2 separate regions of the Homo sapiens genome follow, and region 1 is linked to region 2. Evidence: fine-mapped expression QTL. A gene starts in region 2. The other region holds a variant in brackets. All regions are shown on one strand. Distances are between the middles of the regions.

Evidence for each region.
Region 1: its variant is fine-mapped to the expression of IL12RB1 in whole blood (TOPMed, PIP above 0.99).

Annotation. Positions count from the first base shown.
Region 1 is chr19:18,045,497-18,060,610 of GRCh38, forward strand. It overlaps IL12RB1 (interleukin 12 receptor subunit beta 1), which reads right to left. Exons shown (of 17, transcript NM_005535.3): 16 at 14,398-14,589; 17 at 13,499-14,117. The coding sequence ends at 14,112. It also overlaps the pseudogene RPS18P13. Among named protein-coding and RNA genes, the nearest start is that of IL12RB1, 34 kb to the right of the region's middle. RefSeq lists a silencer at 3,872-4,033 and an enhancer at 6,071-6,572. The variant G/A (reference allele first, on the strand shown) is at 11,157.
Region 2 is chr19:18,083,068-18,091,067 of GRCh38, forward strand. IL12RB1 (interleukin 12 receptor subunit beta 1) reads right to left here and starts at 3,867. Exons shown (of 17, transcript NM_005535.3): 1 at 3,693-3,867; 2 at 365-424. The coding sequence starts at 3,756. RefSeq lists enhancers at 3,779-4,128, 4,139-4,198.

The DNA of each region.
Region 1 (15,114 bases), 34 kb before region 2:
GGCCTTGGCCCCAAATGTCGCCTATTCCAGGAAGCCCTCCAGGACTGCCTGATCAGGAAACACCCTCCCTCTGCTGCATCTGGTCATGTATTCTACTTTATTCATCACACTTTTCAACACCTGATTCCACATTACAGATGCATCGCTTCAGGTGCATAATGTCCTCTGGGTCCCACCTTTGTCCCCAGACCATGAGTCCTACAAGGGCAAGATTGCTCTCAGTTGTCCCCGGCTGTGTCCCCAGACCACAGCCCAGGGCCTAAAGCACAGCAGGCATCTGGGGAAACATTTCTTTTTATCAGCATAAGATTATTATCTGTGAGCACACTCATTAAGCCCCGGCTGTGTACAGGAGCCAGCGACACCACCATGAATGAGATACAAATTCTTTTTTTTTTCTTTCTTTTTTTTTTTTTAGACGGAGTCTCATTCTGTTGCCCAAGCTGGAGTGCAGTGTGGCACAATCTCAGCTCACTGCAACCTCCACCTCCCAGGCTCAGGTGATTCTCCCGCCTCAGCCTCCCAAGTAGCTGGGATTGGTAGCTGGGACTACAGGCTCCCACCACCACACAGTTAATTTTTGTATTTTTCAGCAGAGATGAGATTTCACCATGTTGGCCAGGCTGGTCTTGAACTCCTGACCTCAAGTGATTCGCTCACCTCAGCCTCCCAAAGTGCTGGGATTATAGGCATGAGTCACCGCGCCTGGCAGAGATACAAATTCCTGATGGCAGAGGAGGGAGAGAGAGTGTGGGTGACGATGACAATTGAACTGAGACCCAAAGGAGGTAGGGGAGACATATGGGCGTCTCTGGGAAGATGGTCCCCGGGAAAGCACAGCCTTTAGACAGGCCCCGAGGCAGGAGCCTGTCTGACTCACCGGAGGAGCTTGGAGGAGGCTGAGGTGGCCTAAGTCGATTAAGCAGGGTGGGGAGGGAAGAGGCGATGGTGCCGTGAGACCAAGCAGGGCCTTGAGGTCTGGGGGGAGAACTTTGGCTTTTACTCTGAGGAAGGTGGGAGCCACAGAGGCTTCTAGACAGAAGAAGGACAAGCCGGACTCAGGATACCAGGGTGGGGGTATCTGTGGGGGATAAAGGGAGAAGCGAGGAGACCACAGAGGGGTGCCACTGCTGGTCCTAAGGAGCAATGATAGTCTGGACCAGGGAGAAGGGACCTTCATGAGAAGGGATCGGATGTGGGAGCAATTTTGATGGTGGATGGGTGGAGGAAGAAGATTCAGGGGCACCAGTGTGAGCCCATCTCACAAGGGAGGAAACTGAGACTCTGGGGACAGAGGGATCTCAGTAAAGGAGAAACTGGAAGAAACCAGTGGAACGTTCAGAGGTGACCAGGGTCCAGGAGGGAGCCCCCGCACCTCCCTGAGTCACAGAGATTGCCAGCTTCCTCCTGATGCAACCTGACCTTCCATCTCTCTCTTTGTTTGTTTGTTTGTTTGTTTTGAGACAGAGTCTCACTCTGTCACCCAGGCTGGGGTGCAGTGGCACGATCCCTGCTCACTGCAACCTCTACCTCCCATGTTCAAGCAATTCTACTGCTTCAGCCTCCAAAGTAGCTGGGATTACAGATACACACCACCACACTGGGCTAATTTTTGTATCTTTAGTAGAGACGGGGTTTCGCCATGTTGGCCAGGGTGATCTTGAACCCCTGACCTCAAGTGATCTGCCTGTCTTGGCCTCCCAAAGTGCTGGGATTACAGGCGTGAGCCACCGCACCCGGCCTCTCTTTGATTTTATCTCTATAATTTCCATCCCTGTCAGAGGGAAGAGGCTCCACCACCTACAGACACCGATAGGCCTGACTCGGCTTCCCACAGATTCATTTACTAACCCCAAACCCCAAGACATGGGTACCAACACTGTTTTACAGATGGGGAAACTGAGGCTCATATAGGCGAAGTGGTTTTCCAGGCAGAGGCAGGATTAGAACCCTGAGCCTTGGCTCTAGACCCCTGCTCTTGAGATGGCACTCTGCTGGGGGTCATCAAACATTCCACCCCGAGATGCATTATTCCTTTCCCAGCTTCTGAGAACTTGGGCTTGGGTGGGAGCCCCCTGCAACGTGCTAAAAATCCAGGTTTAGGCATTTTTTTAATGTAAAAAAATATTTACTTATCATCCAGGCACGGTGGCTTACGCCTGTAATCCCAGCACTTTGGGAGGCCGAGGTGGGCAGATCATTTGAGGTCAGGAGTTCAAGACCAGTCTGGACAACATGGCGAAACCTCGTCTCTACTAAAAATACAAAAATTAGCCAGGTGTGGTGGCGCACGCCTGTAATCTCAGTTACTACAGAGGCTGAGGCAGGAGAAATCGCTTGAACCCAGGAGGAAGAGGTTACTGTGAGCCGAGATCCTGCCACTGCACTCCAGCCTGGGCAACAGAGCAAGACTTCATCACAAACAAATGAACAAACAAAACTTATTTATTTTCTAGAAACAGGGTCTCGCTCTATCACCCAGGCTGGAGTACATTGGCATGATCATAGCTCATTGCAGCCTCAAACTCCTGGACTCAAGCGATCCTCCCACCTCAGCCTCCCTGAGTAGCTGGGACTACAGGCACCTGCCACCATGCCCAGCTACATTTTTTCAATTTTTTGGAGAGACAGGATCTTACTACATTGCCCAGGCTAGTCTCGAACTCCTGGGCTCAAACAATCCTACAGCCTCGGCCTCCCAAACTGCTGGGATTACAGCCTTGAGCCACCAACCTTGGCCAGATTTAGATTTGTATGGCCTTACGTTTCTGAGTTTGTAAGATTATATACGATTCATTTGTTCATTCATGTTCATTCATTCCTGGCCACATCCAGGTGCCTGCCTTATTTGGGGTAATGCTCGAGGCCCCAGCTTGGGAAGGTCCAGGCTGGATAGAGATATTCTTGTTCCCACAGGGTCAAGGCTAGGCTGGAGGGAGGTACCCAGGGCTGGGGGTCCCCAGCGATCCAGGAAGTGGGGGGCTTGCTGAAGAAGGGAACCTCATGCCAAAGGCCTGGGTCCCTTCCTCCTCATGCCCACCACCCCCATGACGAAAGCCAGAGAGGATGAGGGCAATGTGGGGCTTCCATACCCCAAATATGATCCTGGTGCCTGGTATGGAACCCCAGAGCCTGCCACCGTGTCTCTAGTGATCCTTGAAAAGTTCCAGCATATTTTGGGAGTACTCAACACCAACATCGATGGGTGGTGGAAAATAGCCTTTGCTATCACTGCCATTAAAGGTGTGGATGGAAGATACGCTTATGTGGTGTTGAGGAAAACAGACATTGACCTCACCAAGAGGGCGGGAGACTCACGGAGGATGAGATGGAATGAGTGATCACCATTGTGCAGAATCCACAGCAGTACAAGATCCCAGACTGGCTCTTGAACAGACAGAAGGATGTAAAGGATGGAAAATATAGCCAGGTCCTAGCCAGTGGTCTGGACAACAAGCTCCGTGAAGACCTGGAGCAACCGAAGAAGATTCCGGCCCATAGAGGGATGCACCACTTCTGGGGCCTTCATGTCTGAGGCCAGCACACCGAGACCATTGGCCGCCATGGCCGTACCTGTACCGTGGGTGTATCCAAGAAGAAATAAGTCTGTAGGCCTTATCTGTTAATAAATAGTTTATGGCCGGGCGCGGTGGCTCACGCCTGTAATCCCAGCACTTTGGGAGGCCGAGGTGGGCGGATCATGAGGTCAGGAGATTGAGACCATCCTGCTAACACGGTGAAACCCTGTCTCTACTAAAAATACAAATAATTAGCCAGGTGTGGTGGCACACGCCTGTAGACCCAGCTACTCTGGAGGCTGAGGCAGGAGAATCTCTTGAACCCGGAAGGCAGACGTTGCAGTGAGCTGAGATCATGCCACTGCACTCCAGCCTGGGCGAAAGAGCAAGACTGTCGCAAAAAAACAAATAGTTTATATACCAAAAAAAAAAAAAGGAAGAGGAAAAAAAACCTGAGCCCAAAGCCTAGCCCTAAACGTCACCTCCGGTCCCCATTCCCGGCTTGCACCGGGCAGCAGCCAACACCACGGGGAAGTGGCCTGGGCTTCCCGCCAGACTGCCTGCTGGAAAACTAGCTCTGGGAGGTGGGGGTGTCACCATCCAGTATGTGAGGGTGGAACCTTCTGGGCTGACCATTTATGGGACAGGCCCCTAGAATGGGAGGCCCAGGACAGCCGGAGAGCCACAGAGCCCAGCAGCTGGACCAGGGTGACCATGATGCCACTGGGGCTGGGACACCTGCACGAGACTCTTCAGGAATAAGCCCCTATTTCCCCACCTAAAAATGGAAGTGGGGCCGGGCACAGTGGCTCACGCCTGTAATCCCAGCACTTTGGGAGGCCGAGGCGGGTGGATCACTTGAGGTCAGGAGTTCGAGACCAGCCTGACCAACATGGTGAAACCCCGTGTCTACAAAAATACAAAAATTAGCCAGGCATCATGGTGGGGGGCCTGTAATCCCAGCTACTCAGGAAGCTGAGGGAGGAGAATCACTTGAACTGGGAAACAGAGGTTGCAGTGAGCAGAGATTGTGCCCCTGCCCTCCAGCCTGGGCCACAGAGCGAGACTCTGTCTCCAAAAGTAAAAAAAGAGACAAATAAACAGAGAAACAAGGAGAGACAGAGGCAGTGAGAGACAGAGACACAGAGAGATACACAGGGAGACACAGAGACAGGTGAAACAGAGACAGAGAGAGATGAGACAGAAACACACAGAGAGACAGACACAGAGAAACAGGGAAAGAGAGAAAGGGAGACACAGGGAGACAGAGACAGAGAGACAGAAGTGAGACAGAGAGATGAGACAAAGAGACAGAGAGAGAGACAGGGAGAGAGATGAGAAATGAGATAAAGAGAAAGATGACACAAATATTTTGGGAGGCTGAGGGGGGAGGATTGCTGGAGGCCAGGAATTAGAGACCAGCCTGGGCAACATAATGAGACCCTTATCTCTACAAAAAGAAAAAGAAAAAAAAAGATGGCAAAGAAAGAGACAAGGAGAGAGACAGAGAGACAAAACACAAAGATAGAGAGAGAGGGGCACAGGGAGAAAGAGACAAAGAGGGGCAAGACAAGCCAGGTGCGATGGCTCACTCCTGTAATCCAAGCACTTTGGGAGGCCGAGGAGGGCGGATTACCTGAGGCCAGAGAGTTCAAGATCAGCCTGACCAACATGGTGAAACCCCGTCTCTACTAAAAATACAAAAATTAGCATAGTAGGGTGGCGCACGCCTGTGATCTCAGCTACTTGGGAGGTTGAGGCAGGAGAATCTCTTGAACCTGGGAGGTGGAGGTTGCAGTGAGCCAAGATCACGCCATTGCACTCCAGCCTGGGCAATAGAGTGAGACTCTGTCTCAAAAAATTAAAAAAAAAAAAATTAAAAAAAAAAATAAAAGCAAGTCAGAGAAATAGAGACAGAGAGACAGGAAGAGATGAGAAATGAGAGATAGGGAGAGACAGGGAGGGAGGAAGGAAATAGGAAGCTGGGGGTGGGGCCAGGACACAGTGGCTCATGCTTGTAATCCCAGCACTTTGGGAGGCTGAGATGGGAGGACTGCTTGAGGCCAGGAATCTGAGACCAGCCTGAGCAGCAGAGTGAGTGCTCTTTCTACAAAAAATACAAAAATTAGCTGGGCTTGGTGGCACACACCTGCGGTCTCAGCTACTTGGAAGGCTGAGGTGGGAGGATTGTTTGAGCCCAGGAGGCTGCAGTGAGCTATGATCACACCACTGCACTCCAGCCTCTGGGTGACAGACAGAGACAGTGTCTCAAAATAAAACAAAATGAAAATTAGCCAGGCATGGTGGCGGGCACTTGTAATCCCAGCCACTCGGAAGGCTGAGGCAGGAGAATCGCTTGAACCTGGGAGGTGAAGATTGCAGTGAGCCGAGATCGCACCAGCCTGGGAAAGGAGAGCAAAACTCCGTCTCAGAATAATAATAAAATAAAATAAAGATCACTCCTGTTTAGTTGGTTAAGAAGAAAAAAAAAAGAGGTTAGGGGTACAAGACCAGCCACTGGGAGAAGAGGGCCCTCCTACCCGGCCAGAGGAGCCCCCTGCCTGGAGCTCCTGATCCCAGCACATAAGGTTTAATATTATTAAAGGTGATGATATCTTGGAGGGTTGGGCACCTCGTTCACCTAGCTCCTTCTCACCTCTCATAGGCCTCCCCGGGGGGTTAACTACCCCATTGCACCGATGGGGAAACTGAGGCTCGGAGAAGCCCTGGCTGCACAGGCAGTTGGAAGCAGAGCCAGGACTCGGCTGGATCCTTGAGACGTTTGTCGACTGACTGTGTGACCCTTGGCCCCTCCAGTCTCCAACCCGGAGGAGAAACCCGCCCCTCTTCCCGTCCCCCACCCCCAGCCCGCCCGGCGGGTGTTTTTTTTTTCCTCCTCCTGGGTATTTTGGTTTCGGCAGGAACCGCCCCGGGGAGCAGGCGGTTCCCGCTGGCAGGGTCAGCCCAGGGCGGGGACGGGAGCCAGGAGCAGCTCCAGGCCAGGGAAGGTGGGGAGGACTCGGGGAGGAAGCCTGGCCGTGGCCCCGACCACTGGGACCAGGCAGGTCGCGTCCCCATCCCAATCTTCCGGTGCCTCAGTTTCCCCACCTGGAAAGCGGGGCTCTGCGTGATCGCGGCACAGCCCGTGGAGGCGCGTCGCGCATGGGGCCGGGCGGGGTTTCCACGTCTCCGCCAAGGTTCTGTCCACTCAGTTATTAAACATTGATGGATCGGGGACAGAGCCAGAGGCCAGTGCCCCAAACCGGGGCGGGAGGTGGGGAGGGGAGGAGGGGGGAGGGACAGGCCAGAGGTGGGGGCTGGGGGCGGGGAGGATGGGGAGAGGTGCCCGCAAGAGGGGTTTATCAAGATCAGGAGGATTCTCAGGTAGCACACCCAAAGCACAAGCCAGCAAAGGAAAATAGATCAACCCGACTCCACACAATGCAAGACTTTTCTTCTGCAAGGCCACTATTAAGAGAGGCCTGGCACAGTGGCTCACACCTGTAATCCCAGCACTTTGGGAGGTTGAGGCAGGAGGATCGCTTGAGTCCAGGAGTTCAGGATCAGTCTGGACAACATAGTGAGATGAGACCTTGTCTATACAAAAAATATTTAAAAATTAGCCAGGTGTGGTGGTGTGTGCTTGTATAGTCCCAGCTACTGGGGAGGCTGAGGTGGGAGGATCGCTTGAACCCAGGAGTTCGAGGCTGCAGTGAGCTATGATTGCGTTGCTGCACTCCAGCCTGGGCAAAAGAGGGAGACTCTATCTCAAAAAAAAAAAAAAAAATGACAACCCACAGAATGGGAGAATATATGTGCAAATTTTGTATCTGATAAGGGTCAAAAAGATAAATAATCCAGTCAGACATGGTGGCTCACGCCTGTAATCCCAGCACTTTGGAAGGCTGAAGCGGGCAGATCACTCAAGGTCAGGAGTTCAAGACCAGCCTGGCCAACATGGTGAAACATTGTTTCTACTAAAAATACAAAAATTATCCGGGCATGGTGGCTAACGCCTGTAATCCCAGCTACTTGGGAGGCTGAGGCAGGAGAATCGCTTGAATCTGGGAGACAGAGATTGTGGTGAGCCAAGATAACGCCACTGTACTCCAGCCTTGGCATCAGAACATCAAAAAGAAGAAGAAGGAGGAGGAGGAGAAGGAGAAGGATAAGAAGAAAAAGGAGGCCAGGCGCAGTGGCTCACGTCTGTAATCTCAACACTTTGGGAGGCTGAGGTGGGAGGGTTACTTGAGCTCAGGAGTTCCAGAACAGCCTGGCCAACATGGTGAAACTCTGTCTCTAGTAAACATACAAAAATTAGCCGGGCATGGTGGCAAGAGCCTGTAATCCCAGCTACTTGGGAAGCTGAAGCACGAGGATGATCGCTTGAACCCGGGAGGCAGAGGTTGCAGTGATCCGAGATCACGCCACTGCACTGCAGCCTGGGTGACAGAGTGAGATCCTGTCTCAAAAAAAAAAAAAAAAAAAAGAAAAGAAAAAGGAAAATAGCAAGTGTTGATGAGGATGTGGAGAAATTTGAACCCCCATGCCTTGCTGGAGGGAATGTGAAATGGTACAGCTGACGTGGAAAACTTTGGCAGATCTTCCAGAAGTTAAACACAGAATTACCATATGACTCTGTGATTCCACTCCTAGATGTATACGGAGAAAACTGAAAACAGGTGTTTACGCCAAAACTTGTACACAAACTCTCAGAGCTGCGCTATCCACAATAGCCAGAAAATGGAAACCACCGAAATGTCCATTGATGGCTGAGTGGATAAATAAATAGTGACACATCCACACAATGGAATGCTATTCAGCCATCAAAAAGAACGAAACCCTGACACACACTATAATGAGGATGCGTTTCAAAAACATCTGAGTTTCTTTCACAAAAGAACAGACAGAAAGGCCACATATTGTATGATTTCATTGATATGAAATGCCCAGAACAGGCAAATCCATAGAGACAGGAAGCAGATTAGTGGCTGCCAGGGGCTGGGGGAGGGGAACGGGGAGTGGCTACTGATGGCACAGGTTTTCTTTTTGGGGAGATGAAAATGTTCTAGAATTAGGTATGAGTGATGGCTGCACAACCTTGTGATTGTACAAAAACCACTGAATTGTACTTTTTTTTTTTTTTTTTTTTGAGACAGGGTCTCACTCTGTCACTCAGGCTGGAGTGCAGTGGTGCAATTACGGTTCACTGCAGCCTCAACCTCTTGGGCTCAAGTGATCCTCCTGCCTCGGCTTCTCAAAATGCTGGGATTGCAGGCATGAGCCACCACGCTCAGTGTCAACTGTACACTTTAAGAGGGTGAATTGTATGGTGTGTGAATGTATCTTAAAAAAGGAGGAATGGCCGGGCGCAGTGACTCACGCCTGTAATCCCATCACTTTGGGAGGCCAAGGTGGGCAGATCGCCTGAGGTCAGGAGTTTGAGACCAGCCTGGCCAACATGGTGAAACTCCGTCCCTAGCAAAAATACAAAAATTAGCCATGCATGCTTGGTGGTAGGTGCCTGCAGTCCCAGCTACTCCAGAGGCTGAGGCAGAAGAATTGCTTGAACCCAGGAGGTGGGGTTGCAGTGAGCCGAGATCACGCCACTGCACTCCAGCCTCCTGGGCGACAGAGTGAGATTCCATCTAAAAAAAAAAAAAAAAAGAGGAATAAGGCTGGGGCTCAGTGGCTCGTGCCTATAATCTCAACAGTTTGGGAGGCTGAGACAGGAGGATTGCTTGAGCCCAGGAGTTCAAGATTGGTCTGGACAACATAGCAAGACTCTGTTTCTACTTTAAATTTTTTTTTTAAATGAAAGAAATGAGTTAAAAAAGAGAGAGAGAGAAATGGGCAGAGGGCAGAGTTGGAAGAAGGGCCTTCCTGGGCAGAGGGCCTGGCATCTGGGGCACAGATAATAAAGTATCAGGGGCCAGGCCAGGGGCTACCCTGAGTCCAGGGGTCATCTCCTGCAGCTCATGGTTCCCAGAAACCTGACACCTCAGTCCCATCCCGGCTGAAGGGCAGAGGCAGAGACAACATCTGTTTCTGACCAAACCCAGAGGCTACTGGAGAGATAGAGAAGGAAGGTACCTGGGAAGGTAAACTGAGGCAGCCTATCTCTCTGATGGAGACACGCTTCCCACCCAGTAGGTGGGAGCCATGGAGAAGGGAAAAGATGGATCAGGAAAGACAGAGACAGAGGAGGGGAGGTGGGAAGAGGGGCAGGGGCTCTGGAGAGGCTGCCTGACCACATCCATTTTATGGACCAGAAAACTGAGGCCCACAAGATGAATCACTTACTCCCAGCTGAACTGCAGCCAGAATAAACTCTGAACCTCTCACCCGTCAGGACCTGACTCTCCAGCTCCAGGACCCCACAACCCAAGAATAAAACCCTAGCCCGCCAGGCGCGGTGGCTCACGCCTATAATCCCAGCACTTTGGGAGGACGGGGCAGGCGGATCACGAGGTCAGGAGATCGAGACCATCCTGGCCAACATGGTGAAACACCGTCTCTACTAAAAACAGAAAAAGATTAGCCGGGCATGGTGGCGGGCGCCTGTAGTCCTAGCTACTCGGGAGGCTGAGGCAGGAGAATGGCGTGAACCCGGAAGGCAGAGCTTGCAGTGAGCCTAGATCGCGCCACTGCACTCCAGCCTGGGCAACAGAGCGAGACTCCATCTCAAAAAAAAAAAAAACCTAGCCCACGGGTACAGTGGCTCACGCCTGTAATCCCAGCACATTGAGAGGCCAAGACAGGAGGATCACTTGAGCCTAGGAGTTTGAGATCAGCCCAGGCAATATGGTGAGACTCTGTCTCTACAAATAATCAAATAAACTAAGCTGAGCGTGGTGGCACGTGCCTGTGGTTCTAGCTGCACAGGAGGCTGAGGAAGGAGGAACAGTTGAGCCCGAGAGGTCGAGGCTGCAGTGCGCTGTGGTCACGCCACTGCACTCCAGCCTGGGCGACAGAACGAGACCCCATCTCAAAAGAAAAAAAACAGCTCTGGTCCATATGCCCCCAGCCTCACGTGGGCTACAACCTCTTCCCCCATCCCCCGTCCATTCCCCACCAGCAACCTCAGGGCCTTTGCACTCCCTCTTCTGGCCCCTCTTTACCACCTTGGTCCTAGCATTGCCTCCTCCAGGAAGCCCTCCCTCACTGGCTACTCCTCACATCCCCACTCATCACTCTTACGGTTTCTCATAACTCTCTGAGTGATAATTAGATTAGTGTCTGCCTTCCCCACCCAGCTAAGAGCCCCTTATGACCAGGAAGATCCTGACTTGTGCAAGATGGGGCCTGGTATACAGTAGGCACTCAATGCTGGCTTTTTTTTTTTTTTTTTTTGAGACAGGGTCTCACCTTGTCACCCAGGCTGGAGTGCAGTGGCGCGATCTCAGCTCACTGCAACCTTGACCTCCCCAGGTTCAGGTGATTCTCCCACCTCAGCCCTCAGCCTCCCAAGTAGCTGAGACTACAGGCATGTGCCACCAAACCTGGCTAATTTTTGTATTTTTAGTAGAGACGGGGTTTCACCATGTTGGCCAGGCTGGCCTCGAACTCCTGAGCTCAAGCGATCGGCCCGCCTTGGCCTCCCAAAGTGCTGGGATTACAGGTGTGAGCCACCGCGCC[G/A]GACCCTGATTTCTTAAATGAATGAATGAAACTGAGCTGTGAAATGGGGGCTAACACCATCCTGACTCCTGGAGCTGCTGGGAGAAGCTGAGGCAATGGCTGCTCTGAGGAGCCCTGGAGTAATAGTTGCATAGCAGTTGCTCAATAAATACCAGGCCAGGGCCCAGCTAAGCAAACTTGCTGGGCCCATTGAGAAAAGGACTCCAAATCCCTTCCTATTTTATAGACGGGTAAGCAGAGGCCCAGAAAGAACCTCCTGTTGGTCATTTTCTAGGGACAGAAGAAGGACTCAAAGTGGCTTCATCAAACAGGGAACTGAGGCCGGGTGCAGTGGCTCATGCCTGTAATCCCAGCACTTTGGGAGGCCAAGTCAGGTGGATCATTTGAGCTCAGCAGTTCGAGACCAGCCTGGGCAACATGGCAAAACCTTGGCAACAAGGCTTGAGCCTGAGGCTGAGGCTGGAGGATCACTCGATCCTAGGAAGTGGAGGTTGCAGTGAGCCAAGATGGTGCTACTGCACTCCAGCCTGGGCAACAGAGTGAGACCCTGTCTCAAAAAAGAAACAAAAAATAAAAAAAAATATTTATTTATTTATTTATTTATTTATTTATTTTTTGAGACGGAGTCTCGCTCTGTCGCCCAGGCTGGAGTGTAGTGGCACAATCTCGGCTCACTGCAACCACCCCCTTCCAGGTTCAAGCGATTCTCCCGCCTCAGCCTACCAAGTAGCTGGGATTATAGGCGCTTGCCACCACGCCCAGCTAATTTTTGTATTTTTAGTAGAGACGGGGTTTCACCATGTTGGCCGGGCTTGTCTCAAACTCCTGACCTCAGGTGATCAGCCCGCCTCTGCCTCCCAAAGTGCTGGGATTACAGGCGTGAGCCACCATGCCCGGCCTAAAATATTTTTTAAAAACAGGAACCAGATGGAAAATATTGGGTTTCAGGTATGGCTGGATCCAGGAACTAATGCTTCATCTCGGTGCTGCTGTCCTCCCTGCAGGCTCCTCTCTCAGACAGGCATCCCCACGGTAGGAAGGAAAGAGGCTCCAAGCTCCAGGCTTCCCTCTGTCCAGCTCAGTCTCCCGCTAGTGGAAGCAGGGTGTGCATCTTCCCCATGCACTCTGGCAAAAGTCCCAGCTGCTGCCAGTAAACATTGCCTGTCTCCTACTTCTCGCACCCAAGGGACTGTGCATAGGGGTGGGTTTGCAGCCAACTCCAGGGGCCTCCAGGGCTCACACCTGCAATCCCAGCAGTTTGGGAGGCCGAGGCGGGTGGATCACTTGAGGTCTGGAGTTCAAGACGAGCCTGGCCAACATGGTGAAACCCTGTTTCTACTAAAAATACAAACACATTTTAGCTGGTCAGGGTGGCGGGCGCCTGTAATCCCAGCTACTTGGGAGGCTGAGGCAGGAGAATCGCTTGAACCCGGGAGGTTGCCGTGAGCCAAGATCGCGCCATTGCACTCCAGCAACAAGAGCCAAACTCCGTCTCAGAAAAAAGAAAGGAGGATAAACGCTCAAGGGAGGGCATGCCTGGTGGAGGGAACGGCTTGAGCAGAAGCTGGGATGTGGCAGATCCGGAGCGGGGCGGGGGGCATTTGCAGAACTCTGACCAGCCACCGTGTGGCTGGGGCACCGAGATCCAGGCCTCTGTTTCCCTATCTAGATGCATCGATGGGGAAAGGGAGGCCCCCAGACCAAAGGGGCGGGGCCTGGGCCTCTTGCCTCCTGGCCCTATTGGCTGCCAGGGGTCTCTCCCCGAGAGGTCTCATCCTTTTTTTGCCACAAAATTCAGTAGTTCTGGGCTTTTTAACTCCCCTCCTCTGTCTGAAACCGGAAAAGTCTGTTTAGCAAACGCGGTGGGAGGAGGCAGGGCGGGCCCGGCCGGGGAAACGCGCGCCGCTGTTGCCACCTGGTGGCCATGGGGAGAATCTGGACTACCCGCTAATCGCCAGGGCTGGGGTGGGATTTCAGGAGCCCCCCCCCACACCTCGGCTCAGACCGCAGTGGGGATCAGGGGGAGGCGGCTGCAGAACGCGAGGGAGGTGGGGCAGTGTGGGCAGAAAGAGGGAGGATTCAGGGTGTGTAAGGGGGGCAAGGGTCCTGCTGCGAGTTGGTGGGCGTGAGGAGGAAGGAGCGTGGGGGCAAACCACGGTTCCTGTTACCGGAGTGCCCGGCTGCTCCACTCCCCCTAGGCCGTCCCTTCCCCTGCTCAGTCCTAACTTAGTAGGGTTCCAAGCTCTCATCCGGCTCTGTCTCCCCCGGATTAGGTGCTCCTGGAGGAGACCTAGAGGAAGAGATTAATAAATATATGTGGAATGAATGAATGAATGAATGAATGAATTCCAAGGCTCGTGTTTTGAGATTTTGAGCAGGACATTCAAGCTTCAAACAGGAAAAAAATACCCAAGAGGAGGCTCATTTACGATGATTTTGAACAGCTGTGTAAGGTCATTATCACCACCCCCATTTTATAGGGGGGTGAGGGTGGGGTGGGGGGTGGGATGGGAGGACCGTCATTTTTCCCACAAAGTTTACAGCCCCCTTCCCTATATGCCTGGATCCTCCAAGCTACAAGACCCCGCAATGCTGCAGGGAGCCCTTGAGTCCAGACTCCCCATCCAGTGCTCCTGGGGGTGGATGCCCAGCCCAGGGTCCAGGGATCCATCTGAGCCCCCCTTGCCCCCATTCCCAGTCCATTCTACGCCAGAACAGGTAAATGGCAGGGTCTGCTCCTGCCCCACGGATGCCAGGCCCAGCAGGGTGCAGCAGCTTCCATTTCATGGCAGCATCTAGGGTTCCCCCGCAGGATGGGTGGCAACAGGCACGGGGCAGAGAGGAGGCAGGTGCACTGGAGCCTGGAGGAGCTCTGGGTTATTTGGGTCCAAATGTGACTCCTGTGTGTGCTACGTAGCCTCGGGCGAGTCACTCACCCTCTCTGAGCCTCAACGATCACATCTGTAAAGTACAACAGTCATGGTTCCTTTCAGGGGGTGGTTGTAGGGATTTGGTAGGGAATCATGTGAGTGGATGGAATGGGCTGGGTATGCCATAAGTGCTTAATAACCAGCCGTTGTGATTGAGATAGTCGCTCTTCGTGTCTGTAAGACAAAGTGGATGTTTTCGTTTCTCCCTCAGGCCTCCAGGCCCTGATATCCCAGGAGCGATGGATGTCTAGCCCCCCCACCCCCCGGGCAGGGTTGCACCCCTGACCGTCTGGCCCACTGGGCCCCAGGACCTTGGCCTTGCACCTGTCTCCATCCTCCAAGGACAACTCTGTATCCAGGGCCAGCTCAGGGGCACCCTCAGGTAGCTCTGTCTTCTCGAGAGGCTCAGTCCTCTCGCCTTTGTCCCAGGACATCTCTACCACCAGGGCCTCCTGCAGGGATGCCTCTTCCTGGAAGTCCACTGGGTTGATCCACTGCCAAGTCTGCAGAGGGAGGGTAGGGCCACAGCTGTGAGCAGAGCTCTACTTCCCATCCACAGCAGGATGGAACGGACCAGGTCACTGCTGGTTAAATTCTCTAACATCCTGAGACCTGGACGGGTGCAGTGGCTCACACCTGTCATCCCAGCACTTTGGGAGGCTGAGGCGGGTGGATCACTTGAGGTCAGCAGTTTGAGACCAGCCTGGAGAACATGGCCAAACCCCATCTCTACTAAAAATACAAAAATTAGCTGAGCTTGGTTGCGCACGCCTGTAATCCCAGCTACTTGGGAGGCTGAAGCAGGAGAATCGTTTGAACCCGGGAATCAGAGGTTGCAGTGAGCCGAGATGGCGCCACTGCACTCCAGGCTGGGTGACAGAGCGAGACTCCATATATCCTGAGACCGATTTGAGGATGGAGTCTGCCGCACTGACTCCCATTCAGCCCCTCTTAGGAAGAGCACTCCCATCTGTCTTTGGGAAATTTCCCTCCCTCTTTTCACAGATGGTGTGGTTGACAGTGCAGTG
Region 2 (8,000 bases):
ACAAGACTCCGTCTCAAAAATAAATAAATGAAATAAATGTTCTAATAATTTATCAGGTTGGGGGGGGGGCTTCAAAATGCTTAACAGGTACTTTCTCCCATGTACCGACCAATCTGAACGGACACAGACACCAGCCCTGAGACCATGCTAGGGAAGTGATAATGTTCAGAGAGGCGGCTGGCTACTCCAGGGCAACTTGAACCTGGTAAGAATGGGCCAGCAGGTGGTGGGGTGGGGACTCCCAAGACCACAGGCAGGGCTGGGTCTTTGGCCTGGTGGTGGAGGCCATGGGAGGGGCCGCTGTGGATGGGGTCAGGCAGAGCCCTACATAATCCTCAGCCAACAATGAGGAACTGCCCCGAACCTGAGTCTGCATCCGGATATGGCGGGTCCTGAAAACAGCACTCACTGGTTCTGCAGGCAGCTGCAAAGGCAATGAAGACATAATGACATTCCTGGCCTTGCACTGTGTGGGGAGAAGGGCTCAGCCTTGGGGTCTACACCCAAGTGATCATCAGCCCTCCCACCCACCCACTTTCCCATCTATGCACCCTCCTACCACCACCCATCCATCCATCTGCCCATGTATTTATCTGCCCATCTACCCATCCATCCATGTATTTATTCATCCGTCCACCATCTACCCATCCATCCACCCATGAATTCATCCATTCACCCATCCATCCATCCATCCATCCATCCATCCATCCATGTATTCATCCATCATCCATCCACCCCACCATCCACCCATCTACCCATCCATCCATCCATGTACTCATCCATCCATCCACTCATCTACCCATCCATCTATCCAACCATCCATGTATTCATTCATCCATCCACCCATCTATCCATCCATCCATCCACCTCACCATCCACCCATTCACCCATCCATCCATGTATTCATCCATCCATGTATTCATCCATCCATGCACCCATCTACCCATCCATCCATCCATCCATCCATCCATCCATCCACCCCACCATCCACCCATTTACCCATCCATCCATGTATTTATCCATCCATGTATTCATCCATCCATCCACGCATCTACCCATCCATCTATCCATCCATGTGTTCATTCATCCATCTACTCATCCATCCATCTGCCCCACCATCCATCCATCCACGTATTCATACATCCATCCATCCACCCCACCATCCGTCCATCCATCCACGTATTCATCCATCCATCCATCCACCCCCCATCCATCTATCCATCCATCCATCCATCCATCCATCCATCCATCAATCCATGTATTAATCCATGCATCCACCCCACCATCCACCCATTTATCCGTCCATTCGTCCATTCATCCATCCATCCATGTATTAATCCATCCATCCATCCATCCATCCATCCCACCATCCACCCATTCACCCATCCATCCATGTATTCATTAGTCCATCCATCCATCCATCCATCCATGTATTTATCCATGCATCCATGCATTCATTAATCCATTATCCATTCACCCAACCATCCATCTATCCATCTAGTCACCAATCTATCCATCTATCCATCCACGTATTCATTCATCCATACACCCACCCATCCATCCATTTATCTACCTACCGATATATCCATCCAGCCATCCATCCATCCATCCATCCATCCATCCATCCATCCATACATACATACATGTATTTATTAATTCATCCATCCATTCATTTACCCACCCATCCACCTGTCTATCCATTCATCCACCACCCTTTAGTCCTCAGAGGTTGAGATGCATATTTGGGAGACACTCTCGGGAGGTACCCCTGCAGGAAAGAACAGTAAGACCAACAGTCTGGAGGGCAGAGAGAAGTGGAGGTGTGCCTGGGGTGGCACCAGTGTCTGAAGCCAGCATGGGGAAAGACAGTAGAGGGTGCATGGCAGGGAGAGGCCTGCCAGGGCTGGCCCAGGCAAGCACACTTGGCCCACTAGCAGTCAGGGCAATTATTAATAACATTTCTCCAGGAGGCAGCGACCTCCCTCAGCCACTGGGATCCCCGTGCCCTTTGGGATTGCCACAGTCTGCTAGGTGTGGAACTGGGTGAGAGAAGGAGGGGGATGCCACCATGGATGGGTCAGGAAGACCCCGGCGCCCTCACTCCCACAAGAAGGACCTGTCCTGAGCCCTGCAGGCAGATTGGAAGCCTTGGGGGAGAAGGCGGCACCCCAGGAAACAGCCCCAAGTGTCCAACCTTGAGGGGGGAAAGATGCTTAACACACAAGGCTCTCCATCCTTCCATCTCTCTCTGTGATGACACAGAACCCCCACCCACCCACCCACCCCTGAGAGCCTAAAGCCCATCCTCCTTCCCTTTCCCTGGACTGACCACTCACTGCCACTATCTCCAGGATACCTCGTGGGCTGCCTCTCGCCCCCTCCCTGCTGCTGGTCTCCAGCCATGCCTGGCCCCTGAAGGCGCTGGGACCTTGAGGTGTGGCCAGCACTGCTGTGGGCATTCTACAGGCACTCAGTGCATCTCAAGAGCCATTGAAAAAGTCAGCACCCCGCTGATCCCCAGTGTACAGAGAAGGAAAGTTTATTTATTATTATTATTATTGAGATAGAGTCTTGCTCTGCCACACAGGCTGGAATGCAGTGCTGCAATCTCGGCTCACTGCAACCTCTGCCTCCTGGGTTCAAGCGATCCTCCCACCTCAGCTCCTAAGTAGCTGGGAGTACAGGTGCCCATCATCAAGCCTGGCTAATTTTTGCATTTTTAGTAGAGATGGGGTTTCACCATGTTAGCCAGGCTGGTCTCGAACTCCTGACCTCAAGTGATCCACCCATCTTGGCCTCCCATAGTGCTGGATTTTCAGGAGTGAGTCACCGTGCAGGGCCTGAGATTATTAAAAGTATATGGGAAGGCTGGGCATGGTGGCTCATGCCTGTAATCTGAGCACTTTGGGAGGCCAAGGTGAGTGGATCATTTGAGCCCAGGAGTTCGAGACCAGCCTGGGCAACACAGCGAGACGCTGTCTCTGTAAAAAGTATACACCAAAAAAATTAACCAGGCATGGTAGTGTGCACCTGCAGTCCCAGCTACTCAAGGGGCTAAGGCAGGAGGATCACTTGAGCCCAGGTGGTCAAGGCTGCAATGAGTTATGATTAGGCCACTGCACTCCAGCCTGGGACACAGAGTGAGACCCTACCTCAGTAAATAAATAAATAAATAAATAAATAAATAAATAAATAAATAAATAAGTAAAGTATACGGAAGGATGTGCATAGGTTATATGCAAATACTTTACCATTTTATATCAGGAACTTGAGCATCTTTGGATTTTGGTATCTGCAGAGGGTCCTGGAACCATTGCCCCGTAAATATGGAAATGACTGTATACATTATATTATGTATGTCTATCTATTGTAAACTACATACATAAGATACTATACTATGTATACCTATTAGATACATACTTGCTTTTTATTCCTTCCTTAGTTTTTTTTCTCATTGAACTCCGGGAGGTGGAAAAAATTTAGTGCATTTCACAGAAGAGAAAATCTAGACCAGAGGAAAGATGTCTAAGTTCGATCCCAGAAGCCATGACTGCCCATCTCCCATTTGACAGCAGGAAAGACTGAGGCACAGAGAGATGAAACCAACCCACACAGCAGGCCCACAGCTCTCCACACATACACGTGCCTCCACCCAGCAAGAGGAGCCGCCATGCCAGGGTCAGGGGACTCACCGCCCTGCCTGGACAGCAGGAAGAGGAAGAGGAGGGGGACCACCCAGGTCACCAGCGGCTCCATCGGATCCACGTAGAGCCCCACAGCCCCAGGGGAGCCTCTCTGCCACCTGCGAGGTTCAGCCACCCCGTCCCCACTCCGGAACACATTGAAGCTGAGCAAGGAGAAAAGACTGAAAAAAAAGAAAAAAGAAAAAAAGTAAAGTGTCACAGCCCATCCCTAAGGCAAGTCAAAGTGAAAGAGAAACCCAGGAAGTCAGCTCCGTGGTGGTGGTGATGGTGGCGGCCACAGACTCTGGAGCAAGTCTGACTTTGGAGCAAGTCAGGGTTCTAGGGGGTTCTGCCCTGCTGGCCCCAGACCTGAACTGAACACCCAGATGCCAGCCCCATGGGCCCATGGGCCACCTGTGGTTCCATGCACTTGGCCAGGTCTCTGGCCCTCTCTAGCCAATTTTTTTTTTTTTTTTTGAGATGGAGCCCTGCTCTGTCGCCCGGGCTGGAGTGTGGTGGCATGATCTCCACTCACTGCAACTTCTGCCTCCCGGGTTCAAGCAATTCTCCTGCCTCAGCCTCCCGAGTAGCTGGAATTACAGGCAACTGCCACAACATCGAGCTAATTTTTGTATTTTTAGTAGAGACAGGGTTTCACCATGCTGGCCAGGCTGGTCTCGAACTCCTAACCCTAAGTGATCCACCCACCTCAGCCTCCCAAAGTGCTGGGATGACAGGCGTGAGCTACCGTGCCTGGCTGCCAAATTCTTTTTTTCTTCTTTTGAGATAGGGTCTTGATCTGTGGCCCAGCTGTAGTGCAGTGGTGCAATCACGGCTCACTGCAACATCAACCTCCCCAGGCTCAGGCCATCCTCCTACCTCAGCCTCCCCAGGAACTGGGACTACAGGCATGCACCACCACGCCCAGCTAATTTTTGCATTTTTTTTTTTTTAAGAGAGGGGGTTTTGCCATGTTGCCCAGGCTGGTCTCAAACTCCCGGGTTCAAATGATCCGTCCGCCTTGGCCTACCAAAATTCTGGGATCACAGGCGTGAGCCACCGCACCGGGCCATCTCGCCAGCTTCTGAATCTGAGACTCAAGAGCTGAAGGAGGGCAGTGTTCTTGGATGGCCTAATTTCATCCTTCCAACAAATTGTTACAAAGAGCTTGCAGCATGCTGGCCCTCCACAATGCCCACCTCCCCACATGCCAAGCTCCAGCCTTGTGCACCTGGGCTCACCCCTCTAATCCCAGCACTTTGAGAGGTCGAGGTGGGAGGATCACTTGACCCCAGGAGTTTGGGTCTACCTAAACAACATAGCAAGACCCCATCTCTATAAAAAATAAAGAATTAGGCCAGGCGCGGTGGCTCACGCCTGTAATCCCAGTACTTTGGGAGGCCAAGGCAGGTGGATCACGAGGTCAGGAGTTTGAGACCAGCCTGACCAAAATGGTGAAACCCTGTCTCTACTGAAAATACAAAAATTAACCGGGTGTGGTGGCAGGCACCTGTAATCCCAGCTACTGAGGAGGCTGAGGCAGGAGAATCGCTTGAACCCAGGAGGTGGAGGTTGCAGTGAGCCGAGATCGCGCCACTGCACTCCAGCCTGGGCAACAGAGTGACACTCCATCTCAAAATATATATATATATATAAATTAAAAGTTAGCCAGTCGTGGTGGCACACATCTGTATTCTCAGCTACTCAGGAGGCTGAGGTGGGAGAATGGCTTGAACCCAGGAGGTTGAGGCTGCAGTGAATCGTGATTGTGCCACTGCACTCCAGTCTGGGTAACAGAGCAAGATCCTGTCTCTTAAAAAAAAAAAAAAAAAAATTTAAGAGATGCAACTTAGTCTTTCCCCCATGTTCCATTTCTTAGCCTCTGAGTATTTTGTTTCCTGCCCCTCCCTCCCCACTGTCGGCAAAGCCTCTAAATGTCAGTGGAGAAGCTCTGATCCAAGCTACCATGTGGATGAACCCTCAAAAACATAATGCTGGGCTGGGTGCAGTGGTTCACATCTGTAATTCCAACACTTTGGGAGGCCGAGGTGGGCGGATCACCTGAGGTCAGGAGTTTGAGACCAGCCTGGCCAACAAGGCGAAACCCTGTCTCTACTAAAAATACAAAAATTTGCCAGGCCTGGTGACATGTGCCTGTAATTCCAGCTATTCGGGAGGCTGAGGCAGAGAGAATTACTTGAACCTGGGAGGTAGAGGTTGCAGTGAGCTGAGATCGTGCCACTGCACTCCAGCCTGGGTGACAGAGTGAGACTCCATCTCAAAAAAAAAAAAACACACATACACAAAAAAAAAAACCCATCATGCTGGGTGGACGAAGATGGACAGGAAAGGCACACACTGTATGATTCCACTTATATAAAATATCCAAAATAGGCAAATGTACAGAGGCAGACAGTAGCTGAGTGGTTGTCAGGGGCTGGGGGGAGGCGGGAGTGAGAAGTGACTGCTGATGTATGCGGGGTTTCCTTTTGGGGTGATGCAAATGTTCTGGAACCAGATAGAGGTGGTGGTTGCACAACACTGAATGTGCTAAATGTCACTGAATCGTTTGCTTTAAAATGATGAATTTCCGGCCCGGGCGCGGTGGCTCACTCCTGCAATCCCAGCACTTGGGAGGCCGAGCCAGGTGGATCATTTGAGGTCAGGAGTTCGAGACCAGCCTGGACAACACAGTGAAACCCAGTCTCTACTAAAAATACAAAAATTAGCTGGGCGTGATGGCATGCACCTGTAATCCCAGCTACTCAGGAGGCTGAGGCAGGAGAATCGCTTGAACCCGGGAGGCAGAGGTTGCAGTGAGCCGAGATCACACCACTGCACTCCCACCTGGGTGAGAGAGTGAGACTATGTCTCAAAAAAAAAAAAAAAGATGAATTTTAGGTTACGTGAGATGCATCTACAGAAAAAAGAAATATTCTTAGAGTCCAGGGGCACTGAGGAGGGAGAAGGAGAGGGTCTCTCCTGGGGATGAGCATCTGTGGAAACTGAGGCCCAAGTGGCCAGGGTTGTGCAATGCGGTTCAGCTTCCTGGGAGGAGGTCCCTCCTTCAAGAAGCCTGGCTCCGAGGGGCAGCTGAGCTGGCCAGGGTCAGGCGCCCAGCAGGCTATGAGGTCAGTGAGTTAGGGACAAAGACTCAGTGTCCTGGGCCTGGCACAGTGGGGACGGGGGCCCTGTGACCCCATACAGGACAGCCTTCTCTGGCCCCGGGGCCCAGGCCAGGGTCAGCTGGGGGATGGATGTGTGAGGCCTGGGGGAGGGGCAGAGACAGAGAAAGGGACAGAGATAGAGAGATACATAAAGATGGAGGAGGCCAGGCAGGGTGGATTATGCCTGTAATCCAGCACTTTGTGAGGCCAAGGCAGGAGGATTGCTGTAGGCTAGGAGTTCAAGAGCAGCCTGGGCAACATGGTGAGACTCCATCTCTACAAAAAATAATTTGCTGGGCATGGTGGCAGGTGCCTGTAGTCCCAGCTACCTGGGAGGCTGAGGCTTAAGCCAGGGAGGTCGAGACTGCAGTGAGCTCTAATTGCGCCACTGCACTCCAGCCTGGGCCACAGAGCAAGACCCTGCTCAAAAAATAACAAGAAAGGTGGAGGAAATAGGTAGAGATCAGAGGAAAGTCATGGCCCCCTCCTGACCATCCTGAGACCCTCCCAACTCCACCAATTCCTGGAGAGTCCCTCACTTGCCTTATTTCACAGATTGGGAAACTGAGTCCAGGGGCACTCAGACCACCTGAGGCCCCAGCTGGAGATGAAGAGATGGATTCAAACCACCCCTTGTGGAGTATAGTTTTGCCCCTTCCAGAGTGGAGACCGTGCCTCAGGGCTTCCCCCACCCGCACCAAGGTTGGCCCTCTCAGGCCTCATCTTTCCCACCTGCAAAATGGGCTTTTGTGAGTATGAAGGAGGGCTTGGCTTGCAGTGAGCGCTGTCCACCCGCTGGCCAGTGTGATTAGTCATTGTTGTTGTTCCCCAGTGGCCTCTGCCTGGCAGCTGCTGGAAAAACATCGAGGGAGGGAGATACAGGGCTGGGGAGGTGAAAAGCTGGACACAGACGCCCCTAGCCCCTTGGGATCAGGAACAGATGGAGGCCGGGTGCCCTGAAGTGGAGCAGGGAGGACTGCCTGGAGGAGGGACACTTGAGCTAGAATGTATAGAATTACAGGGCATCTCCGGCAGAGGCCACAGCAGAGGCAAAAGTCCAGAGGAGGTGCTTTGGGGACCACCAAGATGGACACAGTGGGTCTGGGTTTCTGTGGGGTGATGGGCTGGGGCCTCGAGCGCCAGGCTAAAG